Linked DNA regions of Homo sapiens: regions 2, 3, 4, 5 and 6 are each linked to region 1. The links come from fine-mapping of genetic effects on gene expression. A gene starts in region 1. Each other region holds a variant in brackets. All regions are shown on one strand. Distances are from middle to middle.

Evidence for each region. PIP is the estimated chance that this variant, and not a neighbour inherited with it, causes the effect.
Region 2: its variant is the best candidate, but not a certain one, in a credible set for the expression of RPTOR in monocytes after interferon gamma (Fairfax 2014, PIP 0.66).
Region 3: its variant is the best candidate, but not a certain one, in a credible set for the expression of RPTOR in blood mononuclear cells (TOPMed, PIP 0.59).
Region 4: its variant is the best candidate, but not a certain one, in a credible set for the expression of RPTOR in whole blood (TOPMed, PIP 0.76).
Region 5: its variant is the best candidate, but not a certain one, in a credible set for the expression of RPTOR in whole blood (INTERVAL, PIP 0.88).
Region 6: its variant is the best candidate, but not a certain one, in a credible set for the expression of RPTOR in unexposed skin (GTEx, PIP 0.70).

Annotation. Positions count from the first base shown.
Region 1 is chr17:80,542,727-80,547,912 of GRCh38, reverse strand. RPTOR (regulatory associated protein of MTOR complex 1) reads right to left here and starts at 3,075. Exons shown (of 34, transcript NM_020761.3): 1 at 2,122-3,075. The coding sequence starts at 2,283. RefSeq lists enhancers at 1,728-2,554, 2,482-2,581, 2,862-3,221, 2,555-3,381.
Region 2 is chr17:80,963,872-80,969,057 of GRCh38, reverse strand. RPTOR (regulatory associated protein of MTOR complex 1) reads right to left here. Exons shown (of 34, transcript NM_020761.3): 34 at 2,690-4,796. The coding sequence ends at 4,728. LOC400627 (a long non-coding RNA gene) reads left to right here. Exons shown (of 2, transcript NR_148968.1): 2 at 113-2,819. Among named protein-coding and RNA genes, the nearest start is that of CHMP6, 25 kb to the left of the region's middle. RefSeq lists enhancers at 3,226-3,775, 4,326-4,875. The variant A/G (reference allele first, on the strand shown) is at 3,001.
Region 3 is chr17:80,668,694-80,673,879 of GRCh38, reverse strand. All of the region lies in intron 3 of RPTOR (regulatory associated protein of MTOR complex 1), which reads right to left. Among named protein-coding and RNA genes, the nearest start is that of RPTOR, 130 kb to the right of the region's middle. The variant A/T (reference allele first, on the strand shown) is at 2,142.
Region 4 is chr17:80,704,530-80,709,715 of GRCh38, reverse strand. It overlaps RPTOR (regulatory associated protein of MTOR complex 1), which reads right to left. Exons shown (of 34, transcript NM_020761.3): 4 at 1,717-1,875. Among named protein-coding and RNA genes, the nearest start is that of RPTOR, 160 kb to the right of the region's middle. RefSeq lists an enhancer at 4,602-4,721. The variant T/C (reference allele first, on the strand shown) is at 1,996.
Region 5 is chr17:80,763,761-80,768,946 of GRCh38, reverse strand. All of the region lies in intron 6 of RPTOR (regulatory associated protein of MTOR complex 1), which reads right to left. Among named protein-coding and RNA genes, the nearest start is that of RPTOR, 220 kb to the right of the region's middle. The variant G/A (reference allele first, on the strand shown) is at 3,026.
Region 6 is chr17:80,689,044-80,694,229 of GRCh38, reverse strand. All of the region lies in intron 3 of RPTOR (regulatory associated protein of MTOR complex 1), which reads right to left. Among named protein-coding and RNA genes, the nearest start is that of RPTOR, 150 kb to the right of the region's middle. RefSeq lists enhancers at 1-57, 1-525. The variant T/A (reference allele first, on the strand shown) is at 2,831.

The sequences.
Region 1 (5,186 bases):
CTTCAGTTATGGCATCAGGGAGCCCCTGTTCCCACCCTCCAGAAACTGTCACACACACTGTGCCAAATGTCAGCTGCCATTTGTCTTTATCTTTGAACCTATGCCATTATTCTTCTTAAATGTGGCCTGTTTCATTCTCTTATGCTACCATCCCCACTCAATATCATTTGAGTTTGCAACTTCTGTCCTATAGCATGTGTGATACGGTCCTTGAGGGAAGAGATGACAAGATTCCAAAGGACCTGACCTTTGGAAGAGGGAAGAGATGACAAGATTCCAAACTCCCACACACTCAACTGAAGATGTTAGCTGCTGATTTTCTCCACCGAAAAACAGATACAGCAAACTTTCTCCCCAGCTCCTTTCTAAGCAGCAATCTCAGTAGTCACTAAGAGTCACAGAACTTTTGTTTCTCTTAACAACCTGTGAAAAGCTTATTAGGGAATGTTGATCATTCACAAATTAATGTTTTAATTAAAAGGTCAAACGTATACCCATTAATCAGTTTCAAACTGTTGGAACATAGGTTTAGGACAGCAGAGAGAACCACATTTCAAAATAACAACAACAAAAAAACTGCCCTCCACAAAGAATTTTTTAAAAAGTCTTTTCATATATGTATAGCAACCACAAAAGCTTTTAACTATATAGTTACTACTAAAGATGTCCATAAGATAGAATTTATACAACCTCCCCCAATGACTAACTTATTTAACTCCTTAAAATGCTTTTGGATGAAACAAATTTTCCTAACCTTTTAGAAGTAAGCCAAGTCAGTAGCTAACTGGTTACTACTGACTGACTGACTAGAGTTACCAGAAGTTTTATTTATTTATTTATTTTTGAGACACAGTCTCACTCTGTCCCCTAGGCTGGAGTGCAATGGTGCGATTTCGGCTCACTGCAACCTCTGCCTCCCAGGTTCAAGCGATTCTCCAGCCTCAGCTTCTCGAGTAGCTGGGATTACGGGCACCTGCCACCAAGCCCAGCTAATTTTTGTATTTTTAGTACAGACAGGGTTTCACCATGTTGGCCGGGCTGGTCTCAAACTCCTGACCTCAGGTGATCCGCCTGCCTTTGGGAGGCCTGCCTTGGCCTCCCAAAGTGCTGAGATTACAGGCGTGAGCCACCGCGCCCAGCCCAGAAGTGTAATCTTATATATGTTCAACATCATATACTAAAAAACAATAATATTCCATAAACATATACATAAGCCTAGAGAAAATCAAACATTGTAACACCAACTTCCTCTTTTATACCACTGAAATGTGCAAATAAAAGCAGCCTGGAGGGAGAAAATAACTTACAAAAAGACAAATTATAAGTGTGCATAGAGGAGAAGCAGTACTACCCTTTTGCTTTTGAGGCCAGGAAATAGATGGGTGTTTTATGAAGGACAAATCCAACAAAATTCGGCTGTTTTCTTTCCTACCAGCTGCTTGTGAGTCACTCTCCACACTCCAAACACCATGCGGACACCCTAAAACCTGCACCCAAGTCTCGACGCCTCATACCCTAACTCACGATTAAAGAAATCCTGTTTCCAAGTTACAGCAACAGGACACTACATAAAAGGAGGAAAATCTAGCTTCAAGAGAAATTGTTTAGAAGACTAGAATGAAGTTCAGTGTAACTTTATAATAACTTTGCACTAATTTGTTACTAGTTGAACATTTTCCAGTAATCTCATTTCCTAGCATAGTATATCAGACTTCTGCACTTCACCCAGCTTGGATATTTTAAAAAGTAGACTAATCATGTGGGTATAAAGATTATATCGCACGTTGTCCTTCCTCTAAGTGTTTACAGAACTAAGTAGTATGCCAAAGAGCATGTAAATACTCGCAATGCTCTATTTTCAAATTTGCTTAACTTTTATTATCTGAATTAGAACTTAGTTGGAATTGAATTAACACTACCCAGTGAATAATGACTAACCAAAACAGCATTTTCCATTTTCAACCAAAAACTGCAGTCTGAAATGGCTTTTGCTTTCTAGTTGACTTACAACGTGTGGCTAGGGGGAAATGTCGGCGCTTTCCCAAGGACACTTTTCGGGCTGTAAACTTTCTTTGTTGGGGAAACTACCAAGTTCAAGGGGTGCCTTCAGAATCCACTTACCCGATCCTTCATCCTCCAGCTCTGAGCTAAGGATTTGGAGCCTTCAATTTTCTCACAGTGCCTCTTTTTCATAAAAGCCAAAGGTAGGTTCCAGTCTGTAAGATCAGCCTCATCTTCCTCCCCCAGGCCCAGAAGAGGCGATTGCAGCATTTCGGACTCCATCAGTGGGGGAGGGGGTGGGGGAGTCCTTGGCAGCAAGCGCTCGAGAACCTCCAGCCTTAAAAACTAGCGTGTACCAGAATTGGTGAAATAAGAAACAAAAACGGGAAATCGAAAACCAAATGGATAAAGAGTGCGGAGACCCTTACTCAGGCAAAAGTCTGAGATCCTTATCTCTAACTCTGAGCGGGAAGTGGGGAGGTGGGGGCCGCTAGGAAATGGGGCAGCCCAAGAAGCTCCGCAGACACACACCACCCCAGGTCCCAAGCCACTGGCTGCTCCTGAGGCTGTACGTTTCCAGAGGGGCTGCGAGGGGAGCTGCCAAAAGCGTAAGAGACTTCAGGCCTCACGATGACCCTGCTCTCGGCCTCCACCGCCTCAGCAGTTCCGAAGACAGGCAGGCCGCTCTTGGTGCCGGTTCGCCCACTGGGCCGACTGGGCTGAGGTCTCCGGCCAAGGGATCGGGTTCAAAGGGCCCTGGGTCTCCTCCAGCCACTCTCAGCCCTGCGGGTCCCGCACTCGTCTGAGCTGCTGCAACCAGAGCCACGACCGGCCCATCGTGCTCGCCTGCACCCGGTTCCTCAACCTCAGGTCCGCGCGGCCTGGCTGGTCCTGGCCTTCAGCCCCGAGGCTCTCTCCTGCCTGAGAACGAGTCCTGAGAAACGGGCGACACGGAACCACGGAGGAAAGGGACAATGTGGGCTTATTGGGTCATGGGAGCTTTGCCCTCTGGTTTGGAGCTACAGTGAAACTCATCTCATCAGCCCATCAAGGAGGACGCCATATTGCCAGGACCCAGAATGCACCGCGGCCTACGGCGTGGCCGACAGACCAAACCTCCTCAGAGCGGTCTCTCCCCGCCACCCAGCATGCAGCGAAGGAGAAAGAGTCCCCGACCCCGTTACCTCGGTTACCATAATTCCGTTTTCCCCAGTTAATCGCCATTTGTTCAGTAGAGGCGTGTTATTAAAGTCAATCCTACAAATGAAACTGTCGGTTTAATTTATTTTTTCAAAAACATTGTCATTATAAATGAAGTTACATGCTCCTGAAATTAAAGGAATCAACCGCCTTGTTTCTTCCAGATTTTGAAAAAGCGGCAAAAGCTTCACTGATAATATTAGAAAATATTAAAAAGCACTGATAATATTAGAAAATATAGTACTTTTTTTTTTGGAGTGTAGTGTCCTCCACAGTGTCAATCAGATTTTCTCTTTAATTTTTTCATAGAGAACCAAGTGAAAGGCCGGGCGCCGTGGCTCACGCCTGTAATCCCAGCACTTTGGGAGGCCGAAGCGGGCAGATCACGAGGTCAAGAGATCGAGACCAGCCTGGCCAACATGGTGAAACCCCGTCCCTACTAAAAATACACAAATTAGCTGGGCGTGGTGGTGCGCGCCTGTAATCCCAGCTACTCAGGAGGCTGAGGCAGGAGAATTGCTTGAACCCGGGAGGCGGAGGTTGCAGTGGGCCAAGATCGTGCCACTGCACTCCAGCCTGGGAGACAGAGCAAGACTCTTCAGATGAAGAAGGGTCTGAAGCAACAGAAGAAGAGTCTGGAGCAAGATTCGATGAAAAAAAATTTCATCTAATACAATTTTTTGTTTAATCTGTTTCGTTTTCTGAGCAGTTTATCCTTTTTAAATTTTTTTCCCACTTCTTGGTAGCAGTAGTTTATTCTTATTTTGATATAGCTTCACGTGCAGACATCTAAAACTACATGTCTGTGCGTGGAGGCAAGCCTCTTGTGTGACTCTCTTTTTCAATTCAGGAAATTTGGCTCATTTACAATGTATAGAGAACTGTGTAAGGTGGACTATAAAACCAAATGTAGGCAGGGCACCGTGGCTCACGCCTATAATCCTAGCCCTTTGGGAAGCCGAGGAGGGTGGATCACGAGTTCAGGAGTTCGAGACCAGCCTGGCCAACATGGTGAAACGCCGTCTCTAATAAAAATACAAAAATTAGCTGGGCGTGGTGGCGTGCGTCTGTAGTCTCAGCTGCTCGGGAGGCTGAGGCAGGAGAAGAGCTGGAACCTGGGAGGCAGAGGTTGCAGTGAGCCGAGATTACACCACTGCATTCCAGCCTGGGTGACAGAGTGAGATTCCATCTCAAAAATAAATAAATAAATAAATAAATAAATAAGAATAAAACGAGGCCAGGCGTGGTGGTGCACGCCTGTAATCCCAGCACTTTGGGAGGCTGAGGTGGGTGGATCATGAGGTCAGGAGTTCAAGACCATCCTGGCCAAGATGGTCTTGATCTCTCAGGATGGTTTTCCGGGGCTTAGACACATGTGGCCATCCATATCAAAATCTTGATGGCATTTGTGTTCCTTTCAAAATGAGAATGAAGAATACAATCCCAGACCTTTCTCACCCAGCACAAAGCAAGCCTTTAATAAAGGCTACAGGATTAAATCATTGTCATTCCGCACATTCGTTTGGTTATTACACCCCATGGAGCCAATTCTCCTATTGAAACTCAGGGCACCCTCTCTGTTGGCAGAGACTATCCTCACAGTTACCAGCAGAGGCTTCAGGGATGCAGGGTCTTAGGAAGACCCCGTTCTCATCTGAAGGCAACAAAATCACTCCTGTCCTCTGCCTTGTCACCTTGCTCCCCACCTCCGGTGGCTGTAGACAGCTGCATTCCAGCAGCTCTTGCAGGAAGTCACAGTTACAGAAAAGCAGCAACGCTAAACCCATTCATCCCTAACTAGCTCTGTGACCTGGGAAAGCCCACTGAATCTGTGTGAGACTCAGTTTCCTCACCTATAACGTGTGTGACCTTGGGAAATCCATTTTTCGTATCTGAAATTCTAAACGAAGGTGTCAGTGAGCACGTTGAAGTCCAAACCCACCAGGTGGTCAGAATCGCCCAGGAAACTAAAATTCAGGATGCCC
Region 2 (5,186 bases), 420 kb before region 1:
TGAGGCTGGCTTCTACAGCGTGCCCATCCCCATGTTTACAAGAACTCGATTTGTACTCATCTCGGTGACAGAAAAACTGGTGCTAATGGGAAAAATATGACTCTCTCAACAGGAGCCCGCCTGGCACAGCTGCGTGAGTGCCGGGCGTCCTTGCCTGAAACAAACTGCAATTCAGCGCAGGATTCCAGGATTCCATGGCAACGTGCCCTGTGTTCCGGCCCCGGCTGGGGCTTGGGAGCAGCTGCTGTGTCATGGGGGATCCACTTGTTTACCGACAGCCCCAAGGACCCGGACATGGTGCCAGCTTCCCATGCCTTGGCCCTGAGATCTGGGAGGCCCATCGCGGCCGGTGCTTCCCCCAACCCCACTGAGCATCTCCTTCCCGCCCTGTGTCCACCCACCTCCTGCCCAAGACCCCTGAGTGTTCGTGGGCTCTACCTGGTGGGATGCTCTTTGGCTTGTAGACAGGGGTTGGTTGGCAGCATAGTGTTCCCTATCGATGTCCACATCCTAGTGGGAGCCTGTGACTACCTGGCTCGGGGGATCCAGGTTGCAGATGAAATAAGGTTGGATCAGCTGACTTTAAACTAGGGTGGTGACCCTGGAGCATCCCGGGGGGCCCAGTGTAATCACAAGGTCCTTAAAAGTGGAGGAGGGGCCAGCGTGGGGCTCACGCCTGCAATCCCAGAGCTTTGGGAAGCCGAGGCAGCAGGATCCCCTGAATCCAGGAGTTCGAAGCCAGCCTGGGCAACAAAGTGAGACCGAGTCTTCAAAGCCAGCCTGAGCCACATAGTGAGACTGAGTCCTGTCTCTACAAAAAGTAAACAAAAATCAGCCGAGTGTAGTGGTGCACGCCTGTGGTCCCAGCTACTCAGGAGGCTGAGGTGGGAGGATTGCTTGAGCCTAGGTCAAAGCTGCAGTGGCCATGATCACACCCCTGCACTCCAGCCTGGGTGACAGTGAGACCCTGTCAAAAAAAAAAAAAAAAAGTGGAGGAGGGAGGCAGGCGAGCCGGGCTCAGTGAGGAGGGCCCAGGCTGCAGTGGGTGCCAGAATCTATCCTGGAAAAAGGAATGACATGAACACGAGGGAAGCCCCGAAGGGCCATTCAGTGCAGCACTGAGTGAGAGGGGACGTCCTCAAGGAGCCACGAGCCCTGGTGATGAGGCCGTGGTGGGTGGGGGCCCAGCGGGTAGCAGGCGCCCCCTCTGTGTGCGCAGCGGGGCTGGTTGCTCCACATATCGCCCTGGTGCATCCGAGTCCCGAGCTGCCACTCCTGCAGGCCTGCTCTAGGGCGGGGCGGGGCTTGCACAAGCAGCACCTGTAGGTCCCGAGTGCGTGGCTCCCCCAGCCCCAACACACCCCCCAGCCCAAGTGGTGGAGTAAAGGTCTCCGCACATGGCCTTGGGGTGGGGTTAGGACCCCAGTCCCTGCCACCACCCAACAGGCAGGGCTTTGGGCAAGCTACTCAGTGCCCGAGACCCAATTTCTGGTCGGCAGGTGAGAGGGGCCGGGGGGACAAGAGCCTGTTCCCAAGCTCTCCAGAAGTCAGGCCCCTGAGGTGGTGCAGTGTGGCTGACATGACCATCCCCACGGACCCTTGCCTCCCACTCGCCCCGCAGGACCATGCCCAGGCCCGTTGCCTCTGCTGTGGCTTCCACAACATTCCCCCTGGCTCCCAATCCCTGCACGGACCTTGCTGCTTGGGAAAAACCTCAAGGGACAGGCCATGACCTGCAGAGCAGAGTGTGATCTGGAAACGGGAGCCTTTCAAGAATTGGCCAGACGGGGACAGGCGTGGTGGCTCACGCTGGGAGGCTGAGGCAGGTGGATCACCTGAGGTCAAAAGTTCGAAACCAGCCTGGCCAACATGGCGAAACCCCGTCTCCACCAAAAATATAAAAATTAGCTGGGTGTGGTGGTACAGACCTGTAATCCCAGTTACTTGAGAGGCTGAGACAGGAGAATCGCTTGAACCCAGGAGGTGGAGGTTGAGGTGAGCCAAGATCGTGCCACTGCACTCCAGCCTGGGTGACAGCGTGCGATTCCATCTCAAAACAAAAAGCAAACCCAAAAAGAGTTGGCCAGAGGGATGTGCAGATGTGATTAGGGCTAAGGACCCACACAGCCCGAGGTGGGTACGGCCCCTAGGCCTGGAAACACTTCTGGCCTGCATGAGAAGTGGTGACGGTGGGCGTGGGTCAGAGGCCCTGAACTGGAGGAAGGGGCCACGAGCCAAGGAGAGTGGGGGCCTCCAGAAGTGGGGAGGAGCGGGGAAGCGGCTTCTCCCCCAGGAACTCTGACGTGGCCCAGATTTCAATGCAGACTTGAATGGGGCCTCTAACCGTGAGAGGATAACCGTCATTTTAAAGAGAAAGACACGTGTCTGGCCTACGTCACAAGATGGCTCTTGCCACACAGTACGCTCCCTGATGTGGGGTCTGCGCCACAGGGCTGGGGGCACTGCCTGGGAGAAAAGGACCGAGACCTTTGCACACTCGACGTGCCAGGCCCCCTGTGGCCACAGTGCCTGCCTGGAGAGCACCCGGGACGCAGAGCTGCTGGTGGCCCTGGGGACAGCAGGGGGGACCCGGGCAACGTCCCCCCACCCCCCAGAGCTCTGCTCTGACCGATGCCCCCCTGAGGTGGGGTGGGCAGTTTCCTTAAAGACACAGCCGCCAGCCGCGGAGTCTGCGCGTGTTGTTTACTGTTGGTCACTCTCTGCTCTTAGCTTCACATTACCATTTCGTGTTTTGTCAAAGTCCGTCTCAATTCGCGTTTGGTAAAATAAATAGATAATGAGCCTCTAGGCCGGCGCTCTCTCGAGCCGGTTAACGTCGTGATTGAATTTTCACATCAGACCTGTGAAGACAGCCCACGTGCAGGCGGCACGCGGTGCCCATGGGGGTGGGCTCCAGGGTGGAGCGGGGGCGGGGGGGGGTCTTGACCCCTCTGGAGCCACCTGCCTTTTGACAGGTGGTGATTTTGTCTCAAAACAAAC[A/G]GAAACGCGTGTTGGGTAAGAATTGAGTTGAAGGACTGGATGGGAAGCTGCGTGTGCGGGTGGAGCTGGGCTTCTGGAAGATTCTGGTGTTGCCGCCTGGCACGCCCTGTGAGCTGAGTGAGGCCGGGACTCTCTACACCTTCCGGACCCGGGCTGCTTTCTCGGCCCAGACGTGGGGATGGGATTCGTGCCGGAACCTTCTTCTGGTGGGAGCTCGCATTCCAAAAAGGAGCAGCGGAGGGGCCGCCTCTGTCCTGCCTTGTCACGTCCCGGCCAGCCCCAGCTCAGTCTCCAGCTCAGCCCCCTGAGGGCCAGGTGTGTCTCTGGCCAAATGTGACCAGGCAGGGTTCCATCCACCCAGAAGATGCTCTTGGCCACGGCAGGCCACCAGCCACACCGCAGGAGAGCCGGGCCTCGCCACACCAGCTCTCACTCCCGTGGTCGTGGGCCTCTCACCGCCAGAATGAAGCCACCTGGCTCCTTCACCTCTCAATAATCCTGATTCCCGACGAACACGGAAAGAACACTTTTCAAAATACCATCATTGTGGTTGTGTTCTGTTTGCAAAACTGCTCATACACGCCCTGCGGCCCCTCCTGGGCGGGACTGTCCACACAGCTCCTGTCTGCACCACAGGCCCAGCTGTCAGCCGAGGTCGCATCAGCATGGGCGGCTCAAGGCTGGAGACGGGGCTGGTGTCACCCGGAGCCGTCCGGGACCCGGCAGTGCCTCTTGCCTGTATGTGAGGAACGTGTGGGGACAGAGCAGGGAGACCACGCCGCCTGCATGTGTGTGCCCCCAGGTGCCGGCCGTGGTGCCATCTGCACATGCGTGTGCTACACCTGTGTGAGGGCACAGGCATGGAGACCACAGGTCGGGCTGCTGTCCCCGCGCCTGTGGGGAAGAGCAGCCCTTCGGAGGGAAAGGAGCCCCGTGGATTAAGGCAGGGGCTACCTCGCCAAGGACCTGCCTCCCCTGTGCACCGCCACAGCGGCCCCTGCTGACAGCTCTGTGTGAGAGGGGCCAAAACTGGAGTCCAGAGACCTGGAGGTGCGGGGAGGGTGGGCTGTGCGCTTCCTGCTCAGTGATGCTGCCAGCGGCCAAGGACAGCCCGGACCCCTGGGCGGCTTCCTTCACACCCGCCAGTTGGAGGGGCGTCTCCTTCTTCCTCTCTCTTGGTTTCCCGAATTTCCAGTGTCCCCCAGCTGGCTAGGAAATGTCCCTGCTTGCGTGCACTGACTGTGAGAGGTGGTGGGCCTGGCTGGGGCAGCGCCTCTCGCTCGCTCTTGGCCTGATGGGGACAGCTGCCCCAGGGACCCGTAGGAGCCCCAGCGCCTGCCTCTCCGCCAGGGCTCTGTCGGGGGGTTTTTCTGCAGCTAATGCTCTGATTACATGGAAATAAAGTGAGGTGTTTCCCCTTTCAGCGTCTCAGAGAAACACAGAACAGGAGAGGGACAGAGGCGCCGTGGCCGCGGGGGTGCACCTGGATGCTGGTGCTCAGTGGGAAGCCACCGTCAACCCGAGCCCTCCCCTTCCCTGACATTCCAGACACGACAGCGAAGACAGACAAAAGCGAGTAGCAGGGCCCTCCTGCCGTCATCAGCAGCTAAGGCAGCAGCCAACGTTCACACTGCGGGGCCGCAGCAGCCGACGCCCCGTGCCCCGGCGAGTGACAGCTTCACTATGTACAGCAGGCGGCCGTGGCCTGGTGGGCCCGGGTCACGCCGCTATCTGACACGCTTCTCCACCGAGTACACGGAGATGTAGTAGTCGTTGCTTCCCACGGCCAGGTGAGGCTGCAAGGAGAGAGAAGGGGTGAGCAGGGGTTCAGGTGCGGGCAGACACTGCGGGGGGCGGGGGGGCGCAGGCCAACCCGCATCCTTAGGCAGCTCCTGCCGGGGTCTCAGGAACCCCCACGCCCACCTCAGGCCCGGAAATGCCGGGCCGGTCCCACCAGTCCTCTGCAGGGCCCATGCATGGTGCACTCCGTGAGGGGCGTGGCGCTGCCCCGGGCCCTGCGTGGTTTTTTCAGGACTGCCCCACGGGGCAGCTCTGGGATCCAATGTCACACGTGTCAGCAGAGCTACATGCCTGGAGCCTCACAACACAAGGCGGCAGGTGGGCAGAATCCTAATCTAAAAACAACGGCCTGAAGCCACGTGGGGAGGCTGCAACCAAGGCCAGAG
Region 3 (5,186 bases), 130 kb before region 1:
CCAGTATCACAGACCTCTCCATCGCGCTTACACAATTCTGACTGAATAATTACAGTTGAGCAAACTTTCCATTTGATGGCTGCCAATGCTGCACTCAGATGAGCTGCAGACCAGAGCAGAGCTTTAGACAGAAATCTCAAACAAATGGGGTCAAGACCCTGAAGGATTTCTTTGAAGAATTGAAACAGGAAATGAAACACGACTTTCCCAGCAGATCCTGAAGACAAACCACAATCAAAGCGCCGGCTACCAAGAAGTGGCTCCATCAAAGCAAGAGCAATCTGGATGACAGCGAAGGTCACGGCAACCGCTCTTTGAGATGCTCAAGGCATTTTGCTTGTTGGCTTTCTGGAGGCCAAACAACGATGACAGCTGCTTGTTACGAGTGTTTGAGAAAGCCTAAGCTTGAGCAGAAAAATGCCCAGGAAAGTGTCACCAGGGAGCCCCCTCCACCTCCACAGTGATAACAGTGCTCCTGCTCATTGCTCGCATCCAAAACAAGCATCCAACAAGGGGAACTTTGTGACAGTTTTCATGGGAAACAATCATTAAAAATCTGCCTTACAGTCCTGATTTGGCTCCTTCTGACTTGTTTGTTTCCTAATCTTTAAAAAATCTTTACAGGAAACGTATTTTTCCTTCTGTTAATAATGTAAAAAGAGGGCTGGGCGTGGCGGCTCACACCTATAATCCCAGCACTTTGGGGAGGCCAATCACCTGAGGTCAGGAATTTGACACCAATCTGGCCAACATGGTGAAACCGCATCTCTACTAAAAATATAAAAATTGGCCAAGCGTGGTGGCACACGCCTATAATCCCAGCTACGTGGGAGGCTGAGGCATGAGACTCGCTTGAACCCGGGAGGTGGAGGTTGCAGTGAGCCAAGATTGCACCACTGCACTCCAGCCTGGGTGACAGAATGAGATTCTGTCTCAAAAAATAAAATAATGTAAAAAGACTGTATAGACACAGTTAAACTCCTAGAACCCTCCGTTCTTTAGGGACAGATTAAATGGGTGGTATCGTCATTTACAAAAGTGTCTTGATCTTGTTAGACCTTATGTTGAGAAGTCTGTTTGTTTGTTTTTTGAGACAGAGTCTCGCTCTGTCGCCCAGGCTGGAGTGCAGTGACGCGATCTCGGCTCACTGAAAGCTTCACCTCCCAAGTTCACGCCATTCTCCTGCCTCAGCCTCCAAAGTAGCTGGGACTACAGGTGCCTGTCACCACACCCGGCTAATTTTTTCTGTTTTTAGTAGAGACAGGGTTTCACTGTGTTAGCCAGGATGGTCTCGATCTCCTGACTTCGTGATCTGCCCGCCTCGGCCTCCCAAAGTGCTGGCATTACTACAGGCGTGAGCCACCGCGCCTGGCTGAGAAGTTTGTTTTTTATTTTTATCTTTTAATTCTTTTTTTGCATGAACTTTTTGAAGTCCCCTCATATATGCAATGGCTGGAGCTTGAGCAGCCATCTTGGACAATGAGGTAACCATTTAAAAAAAAAAAAAAAAAAAGAACCTTTGCACAGCAAAGTAAACATAGGAGGAGCCCGAGGCCTTGCTATGCTGGAGCACTAAACAGCCTTGGAATGACTACTTCTAGGGAATCTTAATGTGAGTGAACAAACTTTAATTTGAGTTACACAATTGTTATTTCCTCTCCCCTGTAACTCTCAGCCAAACCTAATCTTTATACTGTGAGCATAAAGAGATCTTAACCTGACCTTCACAGAGGAGGTATCCAGGGCCACTGTTCCTCTCCAGTATCCGAGTCAGAACACTTCGTAATATAGTATCTGCTCAAAAACTTACCTTGTGATATTAGCCCTTTCTTTAAAATAAAGATAAATCAACCTACGAACCATTGTATTTTAAAAAGAAGCAATAGATTCAATGTACAATGGAAATAGCTACTGGCACCTAGCCAGGGACATTTAATGCTACAACAGCTACTTGGAAATTAAGCCTCCAGTTATATATTAAACAATGACAATAATTGCCTCCTTCAAAAATTCCACGGTCATCTTTGTGCGCAAAGAACACCACGCACACCACAATCCTTTTCCCCTACTGGTTACACCTATTTCAAAACTGAGAAGGTGATTCTACTGCCAAATGGAATGACTAGTGACCAGAAGACCAT[A/T]GGTCAGCCTAGAAAGAAAAGGAAGGCTGCAGATGGCATGCCTGGAGAAGTGTGCTCACTTCTCCAGTAAGCCCCAGGTTCCCTCACAACTATGCAAAGCTGCTTCTCTTACCATTATTTGAAGGATTTTTGAAAGTATCCCCCTTGTAATATGAGTGGACCCCCTTCCCCAACCGACTTAAGTTCTTTTTTAAAGGAATGCTAATCTGTCGAAAATCGTTACAAAAACATGACTTGTGCCTGCAGTATTCTACTCAGCACTATTGACAGAGAGGGCAAATAGACACATCAAATGTCAAGAGCAGGAGGAAAGAAACCAATAATTAGAGAGTGTTCTGGCAAGAGGAAAGAAGAACCCAATAATTACAGAGTGTTTTGATTTAACCGAGATGCTTCAGCAGGAACACACTCTCTCTCTCTCACACGCACGCCCATAAATTTGATTATCAGGAACATTGGCGCTTCCTACTGTGCCGAGCCTGGAGGAAAGGCCATCGGCTGCCGGGCAGCACAAGGACGAAGAGCACAGGCTGCAGAGGGCACTAAAGGCCAGGAGGGGCCCGTGGAGCAACACGGCAGAGATGGTGAGCCCAGAGGAAGCAGGATGTGACTTGGACTCTGAGAAATGAAAGAAAAAGAAGAGAAATTCAGGATACAGCAAAACAGAAGAGGAAATACTGGGCCACGCTCCAGGGCCCACGCTCTTCCCAGGGCCAGGTGCTTTAGGGGCTCAATATGGAGGCAACCGACCTCCAGGATCACTGACCCCGGCGAGGATAAGTTCCAGTGTGCAACCCAGCTCCACCACAGAGAGGGTAACAAGGACGAGCGTGTGCTCCCCTAGGACCAGGGAGAATCCATTCCCCTGACCGAGGAGACCCTTGTGGCTACCGGGGAGGGTTTATGCTTCAGAGTAATCAGAAATGAATGTGGGGGGGAGTTGGGGGGCTGATTATCAAGGGTCCCACAAATTCAACAACTACTGTGTGTCGTCTACAGGCAAACGCCAGGTGCTGCTACACTACACATCTATCGTATACCAGAGCTGAATGCGTGTGTGGACTGCGGATGACCACCTGGCCGGGAGCTGTAGGTACATCTGTTACCAAATGGATTACAATTTCTGGCCTCCTACAGCTCACAGTCAAGTGGGGAAGAGACCCTAAACACAATAAATACGAAAACTGCACAGTGTGTGAGAGGTAGCGAGTGCCATCAAAAAAATAGGGTACAAATAGAAAAAGACGAAGCAGCGGGCAGGCGTCATGTCAAAATCGAGTGCTGACAGCAACGCTCCGGATGGTTAAAAGGCTTAAAAAGGTCAGAAGCAGAAAATCTAATGGCAACAGTGGCATGACAGTGAGGCTTAAGTATAAAGACTGAGAATTAGAACAAGGAGTGGGAAAGGAGAGGGAAGGCGCAAATTCCCGACACGGACAAGGGACGGGTAGGACCTGGTGACTAAGTGGATGGTGATAAAAGAGGGACAATTTAAAGGTGATGTTCTCTGTATTATGGTCGGAAATGAGACAGTTGTGACAAGAAACTGGCTTAAGGTCAAACCTTACAGTGAACAAGAAACCAAGAAACCCGGAGTCCGGTCTGCAGTCGATTTCACTGAGCAAGTCACTTTCTCTGTCCCAGCCCCACCACCTTATCTTTCAGATGAGGGTAATGGTTTTAAACTATTATTCAGATCTCTTGTACATCTAAAGCTTCCAATTTTAGGATGAATTCCACTCAGACAAGACAAATCTAAAGATACCTGAGTGATGTTGTAGACTGTCTCAAATACACAATTTGAGCAAAGACAGAGGCCAGGCCTAAAGAGGCATTCAGAAATCAAACATGAAAGTGACGACTGAAGAACAAAAAAAATGAATTATTTGAATAAGTATCAGAAGTATCAGGAAAAAAAGGAAGGGAAGAGGAAAGAGAGATGATCCACAGAGGGGAAGAGCTCCTGGTGCAGAAGATTGTCCCTCCATGGAGAGGTCTGGGGGTCACCAGAGCGCAGGGGAGAAACATAACAAGGCGTTTTAAGAGTGAACTACTGGGCCGGGCGCGGTGGCGCACGCCTGTAATCCAGCACTTCAGGAGGCCAAGGCGGGCGGATCACCTGAGGTCAGGAGTTCAAGAACAGCCTGACCAACATGGAAAAACCCCATCTCTATTAAAAATACAAAATTAGCCGGGCATGGTGGCGCACGCCTGTAATCCCAGCTACCCGGGAGGCTGAGGCAGGAGAATCGCTTGAACCTGGGAGGCGGAGGTTGCGGTGAGCTGAGATCGCGCCACTGCACTCCAGCCTGGGCGACAAGAGTGAAACTCCGTCTCAAAAAAAAGAAAGAATGAACTACTGTATGCAACAGGGATGAGGTCAGGGAAGTTCCCCAGAAACCACTGGTGCTATTAATGCAGCAAGGGCAGCACTCCGGGTGTTCTGTGACTTACAGATTCCGTGCAAGGGCAAGAGAAGAAGAATTTGGACTCAGCTTTCAGGGAAGGCAGGCCAGGACCAGTGGCCTGTGCAGCAGCTGGGAAATGCCCCCTACCCACATTCCCACGCCCTAGAAAGCCCCAGAAGCCCCCAGCCCCTGGCTGCTCCTGCTGAGCCAGCAGAACGGGCAGGTCCCACCACCTCCCTCGGTGCACACTTAGGGTAGCCTGGCCTCCGGCAAGCGTGTCCCCGAGCAAAGCCCTGGCTGCAGGGGCACCTGGCTCTCCAGCCTCTGTGGTGTGAGAAGCACCCGGGAGGCAGCAGACCCACAGCACTGCCACAGCTACTAAAGCTCTTTCTTTCATTGATATTCAACTCGTCCTTTACAGAATACTGGACAGAATAAAATCTGACCTTTAAAACAGTTGTTCTTCTCTGAAATCATGGGAACAACATTCTCATGCTCAAACCCGAATGCGGACAAGCCGCTGTCCTGAGACTAAACTCCAGCAGGACCCGCTCTGCCTGTGATCCCTGGGGCAGCCGCTCTGCTGAACAAAAGGTTTCTAACAATAAACAATGAGGAATAATGACTGCCAGGTAGC
Region 4 (5,186 bases), 160 kb before region 1:
AAAACCTGTGACAACACCCAGTGCTGGAGAGAAAGGTGGGCAGCTGAAACACTCACGCGGTTTACAGCAGAAACAAGATGGGAACCAGCCCAATGCCCATCTGCAGGGAAGGCACTGAGAAGGGCGGGGTCCCGGCAGGGGACAGCGAATGTGGGAAGAGGCAGGGCTGCAGGCCCCTGGGGTCGGTGGCATGAATCTGCAGAGCCTCCGACCAAGTGAGCAAAGCGCACTGCGGAAGAGCGCGCCAGCGTCCGCCCAGCGTATCAGCAGCGATCTCCCGGATTCGCCGTGCCTGAGAGCCAGCACACCGGGGGCTCCACAGAGGAGAGCCAGGGAAGGACAAATTCAAATTCACTGTGCCAGGCGCCACAGGGGAGGGCAGGGAAAGGAGAGACTGCAGCTGAGAAAGACACGCCAGGGGCCTGTGGTGCACGCCTGGTGGTTCATTACATCCTGCTTCTGTAAATCCTACTTCCTTCACAACGATCGTTTTGAATTTACTCAATATTTAACGAAAGGAATTAAAATCAAGCTGGTATCCAGATACACACGGGGAGAGATGGCACTGCCCTGTGCCCTGCGGGAGGAGCTGGGTGGATACCTTTCTAACTTCCGAGGCTGGCTACTCCTCAGTGTCCAGGGTCAGAAGCCTTCCTCGAGGTCTCTGCTCTGGGCCCACACTGCTTCACCACCTGTGCCGAATGCTAGCTGCGAACCCGGGACGGTAGGCGGGAACCGAGAGTTCAGTGTGTGAAGAAACGGAGTCAGAGTCCTCACTATGATGGCAGGAGGCGGTGTCCACACTAAGGAAGCAGAAGCCCAGGAGGCTGACAGCACAACCGAAACTGGGACTCGGATTTGCTGGATTCCAAATCAGTGCCCTCATAGACACGCTCAGGCACATATGGGGCCACCGCACCCTCCAAGAACTGCTTTTCATGCATCACGCAGAGCGCAGTGAGACCCATAGCTGGCTGCTCTGAGACAGACCAAGGTTCCCACCCTGGAGGATGGGGAGACAGTCAGCACCCACCACACCCTGGAGGGTGGGGACAACAGTCAGCACCCACCACACCCTGGAGGATGAGGAGACAGTCAGCACCCACCACACCCTGGAGGGTGGGGACAACAGTCAGCACCCACCACACCCTGGAGGATGGGGATGACAGTCAGCACCCACCACCCACAGCAACAGCTACAGAAGGGGAGCAAGCACTTCATCTGGTCCTGGGCAACGGAATTGCAAAAGGCTGGTGATTCTGACCTTGAGGAGGGAAGCCCAGAGCCTGCACCTGCAGGGCAGCTTGGAATTAGCCCTTTAGAATATATAAAACACTTTATTTTCTAAGAAAATCACCGATGCTTAAAGAAAGATTCTAACGAAATTGAGAAATTGTGCAATTTTTTCAAACTAGAAGGCAGACACTCTCGAGGTCTGTCCTCGGAGAATTACAAACAACTGCTGGTCTTACAGAGGGAACATAAACCACACGCACCACACTTCAAGGCAGTCATTCCATGAACACGTTCTGCCACAGAAACAGCCCCTCCTTGTGCCTGACTACCTGGTCCGTTCAGTTATGGCATTTGGGTTTGTTGAAACACAGTAAACATCAATGGCTTAACAGAAGCTACGGATGGGCAGGACCTGCTCCGACCACCGCAATTGGCATGGCTTTTGGCAGAAACGGGAAGGAAGCTGGAAGGCACACCCACCTTGTTGAAGACCCAGACCTCCCCGTTGACTGTGGGCCGGGGCACCCCGTGGCCATTGTAGTGAAAGAGGACTCGCTCCTCCTTGGCGTTGCGACGTAAGGACGTGCAGAGCTTCTTGACTTCATCCACAGTTGGGTCAAGGCTCTGCTTGTACCGGGCCTGTTGCAGGAGAAGAAATGAAGAAATTTACCACGGACTCCAGGGAATGCTTGGAACTCATCCCCTACCCTTTCCTCTGGGTTTGCAGTTAATAGCTGTGTGGTCCTGGACACATGGCTC[T/C]GAGTTTCTCCATCTATAAAACCAGGTAATGCCAGGCACCCTGGCTCATGCCGAAAATCCCAGCAGCTTAGGAGGCCAAGGTGGGAGAACTGGTTGAGCCCGGGAGCTCAAGATCAGCCTGGGCAGCAGAATGAGACCCCATCTCTACAATTAAAAAAAAAAAAAATTAGCCAGGTGTGGTGGCACACACCTGTAGTCCCAGCTGAGGTGGAAGGATCACTTAAGCCCAGGAGGTTGAGGTTGCAGTGAACCATGATCACAACACTGTACTCCAGCCTGAGTGACAGAGTGAGATGGTCTCAAAAAAACAAATCAAAACACTACATAAGAACTGCCACACATGATGGTTATAAATATTCATTCAACAAACATTGAGAACTACTAGGAACAACAATGAGATAAACAAGTAATGCCTGTCACATGGCAACACCAAGGCAAACGCAGCTGCCACTGGGGTACCAAGTGTTTCTCAGAAGTACGCGGTCCTTCTGAAAACATCTGGAGCATGGAAGAGAGAATTTGCTCAAATGAAGGAGCCTGCAATGTACACATGGCAGCAATGGCAGAAGAGTGAAGAGACCGAGTAAGGAATCGCCCTGCTGAAAGCTCCTCCCTCCGCCTCCTGCCTGGGCCCTTAACCCTGAATGAGCAGAATCTAAAACTGACAGAGAACAATCAATAGCCTTGATATACACAAATAATAAACAAAGGAACATCATGGCAAAGAAAACCCCATCTCGAAAGCCACAGAGCAGACTGAATGCATAGGAATAAGTTTAACATGAAATGTGCAAAACACAGACATGGAAGATTTTCAAAGCTCTCCTGGAAAACACAGAAGACGTGAACAAATGGGAAGATGCTCCCTGCTTGGGTGGGCTGAGTCAACATTCTTAAGATGTCAGCTCTCGCTCGTTTAATTCACATATTCAATGCATTCCCAGTAAATACCCCAAGGAGCTAAGCTGCTACTGAAGGTCACAGGGAAAAACAAACAGGGACGAAGGGCCAGAAAATCATGGCAGCAGAAAGCCCTGAGGGCAACCTGGCCTTGCCAGACACTGCAGGCTCCCCTAGGGCCTCTCATTAAGACAGCGAGGCTGGGGGCACGGAGACCAGCAGCCCAGGGAACTCACACACAAAGTCCAGAATCAGACCCAAGTACACATGACTTGGCTTGCTTGAGAACAGTGTTTACATAGTCCTAATGCTATGAATGCTGATTTTATTTTAGTAAAACTGTGCCAACTTCCAGAGAACCTGAGTGAGGAGAACGGGCCAAGGAGGAGACAGACCTGGCTGGGTGGCAGGATGCTGGAAAACGGGCACAGGTGGGTCATGCGAGGAGCTACTCCAGTTCTATCATTGCTCTTTTCCTGCAAAGTACTTTTCATGGTGAACTCCCAACAAAGAAGAACCGACAGAGTAAATCTACGACCTTCTGGGGTTGGGGAGGGGAACAACGGGTGTGAAAGTGCTGGGGCCACACCAGGCAGTCAGGGAAGATGCCCTGAGTTGATGAGTCAGTGCAAAGCAGCACCAACATATGCCACTAGAACAAATAGCTAAAAGGGTTTGCCTCTGGGTGGGGATTATGTTTTTAAAAAGTGATGTGTATGTTCATCACTTTGATAAACTTTTAAAACTTTCTTTTAAAAACAACTAAAATAAGTAAGGCCAATGCCATGATCATCACTTGAAGAAAAATGCCAGTAAGTGTTTGGAACGTGCAGGGGAGGCTGCGTTTGAAGGAAGGCCTGGGCTCCCGCTGTGCCCAGGCTGGGCACACAGATGCACACGAAGCACCTGCTGATGTGACTGAGAAAGGAAGCAGAGAGGACACACCCTGAGGAGGGCACACCATTCATGCTTAAGAAAGGTTCCCCTGCCGGACACGGGGGCTCACACCTGGAATCCCAGCATTTCGGAGGCCACGGTGGAAGGACCACTTGAGGCCAGGAGTTCAAGACCAGCCTGGGCAACATAGTCAGATCCCTCGTCTCTACTGAAAAATAAAAATAAAGAAAATAAAGAAAGGTTCCCTGGCATTTCCAGAGAAAAAGAATTAGATGTGAGGAAAACAACAGGAAAACGAGGCCCAATTCCTGCAACACGGTTACTCTGTTGTATATGATACACATTTGGTTTCACCTAATTATATACATTAAAACTCTAATTTATGACAACATAAAACCTCTTGGTATTCTAGACCTTGTACTTTGGAAGTCATCAGTAGATGTATGAATATCTTTCAGATGAGGAGATTTAAGAGTTTTTCCAGGTTCCCCCAAATTTTTGTACCTGCAAGCAAAGCCCATTAGAGAACCAAAAGCTAATCCAAGGCTAGCAACCCTGTGCCACTGCAGGACAGTGCGGAGCCCTGGTCTGAGGCGGGGTTAGAGCCACAGAGTGGTCTCCCCTCTCAGTGTCTCCTCGCTCAGAACCAGAATGCTGCTCGAAAAATAAAGCAGAGTCACGAAGGAGACTTGAGAGAGAGCTAACCAACTGATAACGCGGGATCTTCAAGTCCATTTTCATCTATGAAGGATGTGCGTTGACACGCACAGGGGGCTCTGCCAGGACAGGGCTGGCCCACAGGGAGCCCAGGGCCACAGGGAAGGAGGAAGTGCTCAGAGAAGCACGGAGCGTGACAGGAGGGGTGTCGATGCGTGGCCTGGGAGGCAGCGTGTCACCTGCTCCCATAGGTGGGCATCACTGGCCCATGGGGGACCCCAGCCATGCGGTGGCCAATCTGACCCACATGTTCTGGAGGAGCCTGTTCAATGCCCAGCTCTCCTACAAAATTCCTTCTTGAACCCTTTCAGCAGGAAATAATTTTTTCTTTCTCTGAATTAACTTACACTGCTCACTATACATTCATGTGCAGCTATCTCAATTCTGTGTAGACGGTAAATTCTGTGGTGGTAAACACTGCTCACCCACATGTGTGCCTTTCTGTTCAAAATACAAGTTTTATATCCTTTCCCCAGCATTACAACACACTCAGTTACCAGCAACTAATTGCTGAGTCATACTCAGATTTTTACTGACAGTAATTACAATAATTATTAAAGAAACAAATCAATTTGTAGTAAAGAAACTGATAGAATCCTGCCTGAGGTTGAAGTGGTGTAAGTCACTGTCAACATAATATCAGAAAGTATGTGTGTACAAACAGCTGCATCCAGGTG
Region 5 (5,186 bases), 220 kb before region 1:
CGCTTTTTTATTTAAAAAAGGGTCATGAATGCCTGCTATTAAATACGGAGCTGAATGCACTGACAGTTTTTGCATGCAATGTGACCTAACGTCACTGATTAAATATGGAGGCATGAGCACGCTTAGGCACATAAATCAAACAAGAAGCCAAACTGCCACTAAAATGCCCAGAAGTTTAAGAAGAAGATACAAAGAGGCAAATAAGCAGTTAATATGTCACCGTGTGATGGGGATATAAGTCAGTCGATTAGTAGGTATGATTTCAAACAAGTCCTGAAGCTAATCTGGAACATAGTGATGATGACATCAAGCAGGAGACAACAAATGACTTTCTTCCCATGAGACACGGACAGTGAGGAGGCCTGGGACAGGCAGGAGTGAGGCCGGGGCTGAGCACTCTTTCCCGTGCAGTATTTCACCCAAGCTGATTTCCGAGGATTACATGAATAACTCAGTAGCTATGAGAGCCCAACTGTGGGCTGAACTGCACAGTCTTAATTCTTTTCTGAATGCTCCTTTTATGTTAAAAGGATACTCTGTGTATACTTGCTACCCTTGAGTCCTCCAGATACATTACACACGGATGCATTCAAACTCTCACAAAAGTCTTTGGGACTCACTAAGCGGCCTACTGAGACCCCAAGTGAGATCACGCACTCCATGGTTCTCCCGTTAGACAGACATGGGAGAAGAGGAAATGTGAGCCAACAGTAAATGACTAGAAGGTAAGTCCCAACGTGAACCAAAAATATAAAGGCAAGCTGCTCTTAAAAAAAAATTCACGTGGTCAGGCGCGGTGGCTCACGCCTGTAATCCCAGCACTTTGGGAGGCCGAGGCGGGCGGATCACGAGGTCTGGAAATCGAGACCATCCTGGCTAACATGGTGAAACCCCATCTCTACTAAAAATACAAAAATTAGCCAGGCATGGTGTTACGTGCCTGTAATCCCAGCTACTCAGAAGGCTGAGGCAGGAGAATCACTTGAAACAGGGAGTCAGAGGTTGCAGTGAGCTGAGATTGCACCACTGCACTCCAGCCTGGCGACACAGCAAGACTCTGTCTCAAAAATAATAAAATAAAATAAAATCATAAAAAAAAAATTCAAGTAACACTTTTTCTTAGGGAAGTAAGCTGATTTGTAAAAGGCCCCAGGTGCATAAAATTTGGTCAAATTAGTCAACAGTTAGGCAGTAACCTTGTAAAGATTTTCTTAGCTTTTACCATTACTAATTACACCGAGCCTTGGGACAGCAACTTAATATGGTCAGCAGATATTTAAACATTTCACAAAGGTTGTCTGTCTATTCTGTTCATCTTAAAGGTTTGGTAAAATTCACTAGTAAAGATATCTGGGTGCGGGGTTGTCTTTGAATGGTTGTTAACCAGAAATTTAATTTACTTAACAGATATATCCTATCCAAATTTTCTTTTTATTCTTCTGTCAGATTTGATAACTTGTGTCTTTCACAGAATTTATCCATTGCATCTAAGATGAAGAATTTACTGGCATATGGTCCTTCATGATTAAAATGATTCCCTTATTCTCCTTTTATTTACTTATAATTTTCATTTTTGGAGACAGGGTCTCACTCTGTGGTCTATGCTGGACCACAGTGACGTGATCACTGCACTGCTCACTACAGCCTCAATGCCTCCCAGTGATCCTCCCACCTCAGCCTCCCAAGTAGCTGGGACTACAAGCGTATGCCACCACGCACGAGTAATTTTTATATTTTGTAGAGATGGGGTTTTGCTATGTTGCCCAGGCTGGTCTTGAACTCCTGGGCTCAAGCGATCCACCTGCCTCGGCCTCCCAAAGTGCTGGGATTATAGGCATGAGCCCCCGCACCTGGCCCCTTATTCTTTTAACATCTGTAGGATCAGTAAGGATGTGCCCTCTTTCATTTCTGATGAAAGTCATTTGTATCTTCCTTCTATTTTTCTTGAGCACTCTAGAAAAAGTTTTGACAATTTTAATGAACCTTTCAAAAACTATCAACTAGTTTCATGAATTTTTACAAATTTTGGGGTCAACTTCTGTTTATTTTTGCTCTTCTCTTTATTATTTCTTTTCTTCTACTTACTTAGGGTTTAATGTATTCTTTTTTTTCTGGACTTAAAGAAAAACTTAGACCATACATTTGAGAGTTTTTTAATTAAAAACTACAAATAGCATTAAATTTTGAGATCAATTATTGCCGGTACATGAACACCTAGTTAAGTAATGGTGCCTGTTTCTTTCCCTAGTGACAAACAGTGAGCTTACAAACAGCAGTAAGAAAGGGTACAGTGCACACCTCTAGGTGGACCTTTGCAAGCATTTCTATACACTATTAACAAAGGAAAAGAACTGCCAACTAAACAGGTATGTTACTTATTGTAAGATGCTTCTGGACCCCAGATATGTTAAGTGTGAAAACGCACATGCTGGGATCAGGCGTGGTGGCTCATGCCTGGAATTCCAGCACTTTGGGAGGCTAAAGCAGGAGGATCACTTGAGCCCAGGAGTTCAAGGATGCAGTGAGCTATGACTGTGTCACTGCACTCCCATCTAAGTAAAAGGGAGAGACCCTGTCTCTATTTTTTAAAAAAGGACCAGACATGGTGCCTCATGCTTGTAATTCCAGCACTTTGTAAGGCTGAGGTGGGAGGATCTCTTGAGCTTAGGAGTTCGAGACCAGCCTGGGCAACATGGTGACACAGTCTCTACAAAAGATACAAAAATTAGTCAGAATGGTGGCATACACCTGTAGTCCCAGTTACCTGGGGGGCTGAGGTGGGGGGATTGCTTGAGCCCGAGAAGTTGAGACTACGGTGGGCCGTGTTCACACCACTGCACTCCAGCCTGGGTGACAAAGCAAGATCACGTCTTAAAAAAAATTTAAAAAGTACATGCTAGAATCAGTGAACTATGTTAGATGGCCCTTACTGTAAACAGATAATTACAAATGTTCACATTCCTTCTGCTGGTTATGGAGTTATCTTACTGGGGGTCAGGAATTCTAATACTGTTTTAGTGCGAGA[G/A]AGAATCTTTGCCTTGTTCCCAGCTTCGAAGGGAAGACGTCTCCAGTCTCCCCACTAGGCTGGTTTGCTGAAGAGCTCTGATGTAGCCTTTACCACGTTAAGTAAGTCGTGGTAACCTCTATTTAGACGTGACAGACTATAGATGATAGTGATCTCAACTTCCTCCATAACGAGAGAAAAAGAACAGGACAAGGACGGAGAGCCCCAGGAAGGAAATCATGGCAAATGAGAGACGCTGGGCAGGAGAGAGAGAGGCGGAACAACAGAGTTGAGGCTGTCAGTTCGGGAGCCTGGGCACCCAGCTTTGAATCCTGACTCCACCAGCTACTCTCCAAGCAACCTGAACTTCCTCATCCTGAAAGCAGCACTAACGCCAGTCCAAACCTTACAGGCGTGTGGTGTTAGATGAGTGCATTAGTGGAATGGCTCCAGTGACGCTCGACAAATGCTAGCTACTGTTATCCCTGTAACTGTAAAATGTCAACCAAACGTTAAGAAACAGTTGGACAAGCGTAAGTGGCTCAGCAGAGGTGAGAGAAGTGAAGCCTTTGACCTGGACGGTGCAAAGTCAAAATGAAGCACTCACCTCCCAAAGCCTGCTGTCAGCAAGTATCAAGAACTGAGACAACTGGCTCTCTGAAAAGAAGAACTGAGAGCAAGTGCCCAGATGAAAATCTGTGAGAAGAGTGTTCAGAGGCCCTGGACGCCCCCTCCCACACTGGCAGGACTCCCAGGAAATGAAGCAGAGACCCTATGGATGCAGAGATGCGACGGACAGCGTAGGGCTGCCTGTATCTTTCAGATTCGCTCTCTTCATTTTGTTTTTCATCTGTTTATTGCATTTTTCCCCTGGCTCTTTAAGGCAAACATTTAATTTTTCTTGTTTTTTTAATCTTTGTTTTCTGACTAAATGTATTAAATCCTCGCCTGCTTTGGCTACATACACCCCACAAACAGCAAATGTGCTATTACTAACATTTGGCTGTGAGTATTTTATCAGTTTTAAAGTATTTCCTCTTTAGAAATGCAAATCAAAACCACAATGAGATACCATCTCACACCAGTTAGAATGGCAATCGTTAAAAAGTCAGGAAACAACAGGTGCTGGAGAGGATGTGGAGAAACAGGAACACTTTTACACTGTTGGTGGGACTGTAAACTAGTTCAACCATTGTGGAAGTCAGTGTGGCGATTCCTCAGGGATCTAGAACTAGAAATACCATTTGACCCAGCCATCCCATTACTGGGTATATACTCAAAGGACTATAAATCATGCTGCTATAAAGACACATGCACACGTATGTTTACTGTGGCACTATTCACAATAGCAAAGACTTGGAACCAACCCAAATGTCCAACAATGATAGACTGGATTAAGAAAATGTGGCACATATACACCATGGAATACTATGCGGCCATAAAAAATGATGAGTTCATGTCCTTTGTAGGGACATGGATGAAATTGGAAATCATCATTCTCAGTAAACTATTGCAAGGACAAAAAACCAAACACTGCATGTTCTCACTCATAGGTGGGAACTGAACAATGAGAACACATGGACACAGGAAGGGGAACATCACACTCTGGGCCTGTTGTGGGGTGGGGGGAGGGGGGAGGGATAGCATTAGGAGATATACCTAATGCTAAATGACGAGTTAATGGGTGCAGCACACCAGCATGTCACATGTATACATATGTAACCTGCACATTGTGCACATGTACCCTAAAACTTAAAAGTATAATAATAAAATAAAATAAAATAAAATAAAATAAAATAAAATAAAATAAAATAAAATAAAATAACAAAAGAAGTCATACGGTCAGGACTTCAAGTTAGTTAAAGAGATTTTAGGTTTCTCTGCTATATATCAATAATCAGTTTCTAAAAAGACATCTATAGTAGCTATGTGCTTATATAAGTCAATTTTCCCTGTTCAGGTTGATGTCAGGATGAAACAATATGTATAAAGAGATTAGTTATTGGGATTAATGTCAAAGTTCTACAATGAAGTCAAATAAATGTGTAAGTGTGTACATGTAAAAAAAAATAAAAAATATAAAATATTTCCTCTTTAATCCAAGGATTTTAAGATTTTAGTTTTCAGACTTTTGTTAAAGCTGTCCTTTCGTTACTGAGTTCTAGCTTCATTGCGTGTGGTC
Region 6 (5,186 bases), 150 kb before region 1:
TGAGCACGGGGCAACTGCCTCGACCTGTCGCCTCCCCACCCACTCTGAATGAAGCCCCAGATGAGGCACCTGAGGCTGCAGCAGTGGCAAACAAAAGCTGAGATGTCAGAGCCGCCTGTATTTGCTCTACAGCTGTAAACGCAAATCTTCAGCTCGCATTCTTGACAGCGCTCTTTACTTTCTGAAGAAATTTCTAATTTCTTGTCAGATTTCATTTCAAGTTCACAATGTCCCTCTCCGTTCAGACCAAGCCCGTTTCTGCGCAGAGCATCGGCCGCCAGGAGCAAGAGGATGTGAGCTGCTGGCTGCGTGGACGCTCCGGACCATGCCGGGCTCTCCAGACATTCCCCAGCCTCTTGCTGGGTGTTTCAGGGACCCTGTTCCAGGCCCGTGCCCACCTGATCCACAGTCTGTTTTCCAGGTCACTATCTGAGTCAGCTCTCTGGCCCCTGGCAAAACGCTGTTTCCCACAGCACCATCTGGACGCCCACCCTGCGTGGAAGGGGGTGGCTGACCCTACAGCACCCAGGGCTGGCATAAGTCTGCCAGAGTCTGGGCTGGCAGATGCTGAGAGTAGGAAATTGCGTACACCGAACCCAAAGGGACTACAAGGTCACAGTAACTCGTAATGTTCTCAACACGTGTCTGCCCAGTAAGGGCAGAGTTACGTGAAATTTGTAAAATCATCGACTCTTTCCTTTATGTATTATTCAGTAACAATTCTTCCTTCCTTCCTTAATTTGCAGAAGAGGCAGACAAGAACTAGAATAGCTGGTTTATTATTCAAAGTCCAAAAAGAAAAGCTATTGCTTCCAGATGGGGCCAAATCCACTTCTGAAATGGGTGCTCAGAATCCCCCCAATGAACCCGAGAAACACCATCTCCGCTGGGAGCAACTCTGCCCTCGGGGGCACTGGTGTTGTCTGCAGACAGGCTCGGTCGGCACTGCTGGGAGAAGTGGGCCCTGCTGGCATCTGATGGCAATGGCCTGGGGACCTGCTACACATCCTGTGACTGTCCGCACAGCACATGAGCACACGACCACCACAATCATGAATTAGCTGATCCAAATGCCAATCGGGCCAAGCTGGAGAAACTCTGCTTTAGAGGAAACAATGAAGCTTTGATTCCAATGAGGACACGTGGATTCCAGTCTAATACAGCAACAAGAAGCAAGGTAGAAGAAACCATGTACAACATACAGCACTTCCCTAAAGAGAAAACACTGTGTGCGTGTGTGCGTATATAAATGTACCCAAGGTTACGCATACGTGTCATCACATGTGGTACACATATTATTAAAACATTTCAGTGGTGACCTACAGAAGAAAAGATAAAATAGGCTCACCAGGACAGGAAGAGCAGCCAGGCTCCTTTCAATAAACTTCATTTTGTGTATTTAACTTTGGACTCATGAAATATTTTACATAACTACAAAGCAAAATTAATTTTTTTAAAAAGTAATCCAGCCAGGCACAGTGGCTCATGCCTATAATCCTAACACTTTGGGAGGCTGAGGCAGGAGGATCACTTGAGGCCAGGAGTTCAAGACCAGCCTGGGCAACATAGGAAGACTTCATCACTACTAAAAATATAAATAAATAAATTAGGCCAGGCACGGTGGCTCACGCCTGTAATCCTAGCACTTTGGGAGGCCAAGGCAGGTGGATCACCTGAGGTCAGGAGTTCAAGACCAGCCTGACCAACATGGAGAAACCCCATCTCTACTGAAAATACAAAATTAGCTGGGCATGGTGGCATGTGCCTGTAATCCCAGCTACTTGGGAGGCTGAGGCAGGAGAATCGCTTGAACCTGGGAGGTGGAGGTTGCGGTGAGCCGAGATCATGCCACTGCGCTCCAGCCTGGATAACAGAGTAAGACTCCATCTCAAAAAAATAACATAACATAACATAACATAACATAACATAACATAACATAACATAACATAACGTAGCCAGACATGGTGGCGTGCACCTATAGTCTTGGCTACTTGAGAGGCTGAGGTGGGAGGATGGCTTGAGCCCAGGAGGTTGAGGCTGCAGTGAACTATGATTCTGCTACTGTACTCCAGCCTGGGCCACAGTGAGAGCCTGTCTCAAAAATAAATAAATAAAAATACAGGGTAATGTCACTCGACATCTGTGCCTAACCTGAGAAGGAAGGGCGAGTGCCTCAGCAGCGGCTATGCCTCGGCAGCGGCTCTCAGTAACCGCGTCAGTGGCAGTGCTGGTGTTGCTTTCTGAAACTGCCAGGTGTGGTGCAGGATAAGAGAATGGGTAATTACGTTGGTGTTCATGAACAATCTGAGCACTCCATGTGGAAAGAAGCAGATACAGCTGTAGGACCCATGAGAGTAAGCAGACCTTGCAGACCTGAACCTGGATGTGTAAGAGCGCCTTCGTATTTTATCTTTGAAACACCCATAGAGAAAGGGGGCTGAACAAGGGTCAATGAGCAGCCCTGGAGCCCAGATTAAGCTCTCCATACCACTTCCCATGGAAGGAAACCAAGACTCCCTGGAGACAGACACGTGGCTGATTTCAGGCCTAGGGTAGAAGAAGTACAAAATGGCACAGAACATGCTGGCTTGTCATACCATATCAAAATGAAGCAATTGAGGACCGCGAGAACTGCATCACAAGGCTCAGGGGCCAACACAAAGATGGAACGACGTGGACATCGGTGAAGAACGAATAGAGTAAGTCATGCATTCAATAGGGTGGCCACACACGCCACACCACACACACCTATGCGCACACACTGACATGCGTGCACACACACACATCACTCACATCCACACACACCCCCACACTAGTCACCTTTGAGAGA[T/A]GCAGTGAGAAACGAATACAGTAGGTAGTGCCTTCAACAGGGTGGCCACACACACCACACCACACACATACCTATGCATGCACACACGTGCATGCACACACACACGACATGCACACACACATATCACACCCACACACCCCTTACTAGTCACCTTTGAGAGAAGCCCACACACGATTTTGAAAACTGGTTAATAAAGGAAAGTAAGTATTGATGCTGGCTTTCCTCTATGACTGTACCTTGAGCTATCCAAATAATTGATGAGAGGGTTTCTTTATATAGAGATACTCCAGTTAACAAATAAGGACAGCTAAGCACAGTGGCTCGTATCTGTAACCCCAGCACTTTGGGAAGCTGAGGCAGGAAGATTGCTTGAGGCCAGGAATTAAAAACCAGTCTGGGCAACATAGCAAAACCCTGTTTCTACAAGACATTTAAAAATTAGCAAGGCATAGTGTCATGTGCCTGTGGTCCCAGCTACTTGGAAGTCTCAGGTGGGAGGATCACTTGGGCCCGAGAATTTGAGGCTCCAGTGAGCCATGTTTGCGCCACTGCACTCCAGCCTGGGTGGCCAAGTGAGATCCCCTGTTGCAAAAAAAGGAATGAAACAATAACACCATCTTTTCATAATCTCTAATAAATAGATCCAGACAATGATCATCAATAGCTGCTAATATCACAGAGGGACTATCAGATATCCTAAAGTAAGGACACAGCACCACACATGAAACATTCCCTGACTGAACCAGAATCTAGGGGAGCCCGGCTGTGTCCACCACCGAGAGGAAATCCAAGGAGCAGAGGTGAGTGTGGCTCACCCAGGGCAAGGGGGGAGAAGCCACTGACGAGATCGAGACCACGATAAATTCTACAGGCTACATGATCCAGTTTCTTCAACCAATCAACTGCAGAAAGAGACAGGCAGACAGGTGCACAGAGAGTGCTGGGGTGAGGGACTGACTTTTGGATTAATTACATGGATTAACAGAATAGATGAAGTAACTCACAATACATTCATCTCACTTGCATCCTGATTCAAACAAACATTGTGTGTGTGTGTATGTGTGTGTGTGTGTTTAGAAGCATACTTATCTTTAGAGAAAGTAAATATTTCTTTCAGAAATATTGACAGGTGAAATTACATGAAGTCTGGGATTTGCTTCCTAATCAGCCAGGGGAGTGGGAAGGGGGGACTGGGTGGGGGCACAGATGAAAGGAGACTGGAACTGGCAGCTGAAAATGACTGAAGATAGATGATGGGTATATGTTGAAATTTTTCATAATAAAAAGTTTAAAAATAAACAAATGAATAAGCCATAAAAACAAATAAAGAAGCAAATGAGCAAACACGTTTGAAAATGTTTCAATGATTAAAAGACTCTCCCCTAGAATGCTTTTACATATAACTTAATGGTAAAGTAAAGTTTCCTACTTTAATTAGAATCTGCTTGCATGAAGCGTTTCTCCAAGGTGCAGCCAGACATTTTTAAAAGGTGTCCAGACAGGTAGAAATATTAAATGTGTTTTTAGCAAAGGTACACATACCAAAAATCTGAAAGATTATCATACCTAGAAAAATATGTTTTCTATTGAATAGGAGAATGCTTGAGGGCACTGATCAAAAATTTTAAAAATGAACATAAAGAAGGAAAGAAAAATATGTTTCATACGCGTAAAACACTGATAGTGATATGTCTCAGAAAGATCTTCTCCAGTCTTATAGACAAAAAGTATAATGATGGTGTAAGGTAGAATCAGCCTATGAATGGCCTCCAATTAGCTTTCTGACTTTTCGCTGCAGGTCAGCAAACATGGAGACCATGCTGTGCTTTTGCGCTTCCTCGCTAACTATCTGATGAAAGCCTGAAATCTAGTAAATTCCTCATAACAGCAATCCTTGGCGCTTACAAAGCACTTCTAGCCACATTATCTCCTCTGACCACATGCGTAAGACGAGGCCTCACTGCCCACACTCAGCAGAGGGCTCCAGCGATGGCTTCGGAAAGACGGATGTCAGGGAGCAGGTGGCGTCCTCCGCCCCTGCTACACCTAGAACTCTTCCCACGGGGGAGTGCATGGTTTCTGTGAGTACATAAATGATTTATCATGCGGACTCCAAGATGCAGATGCAACCTCTCTAGGAATAATGTTGCCAAGGGGAACATACAAGTGAATGTGTTCATCTGCTGACTAGCTTCTGGCTGTCTGGGGAGATGAAAGGATTTACTGACTTCATAAGGTAGTCCTGTCACTTTAAGAATGCTGCACAGACATACTCCATACATATGAAACCGTTTGATAAATGTTTAAAACACCTTAAGGTGCCATTTTTAGGCAAAGTCATATCCAAAATCAAAAA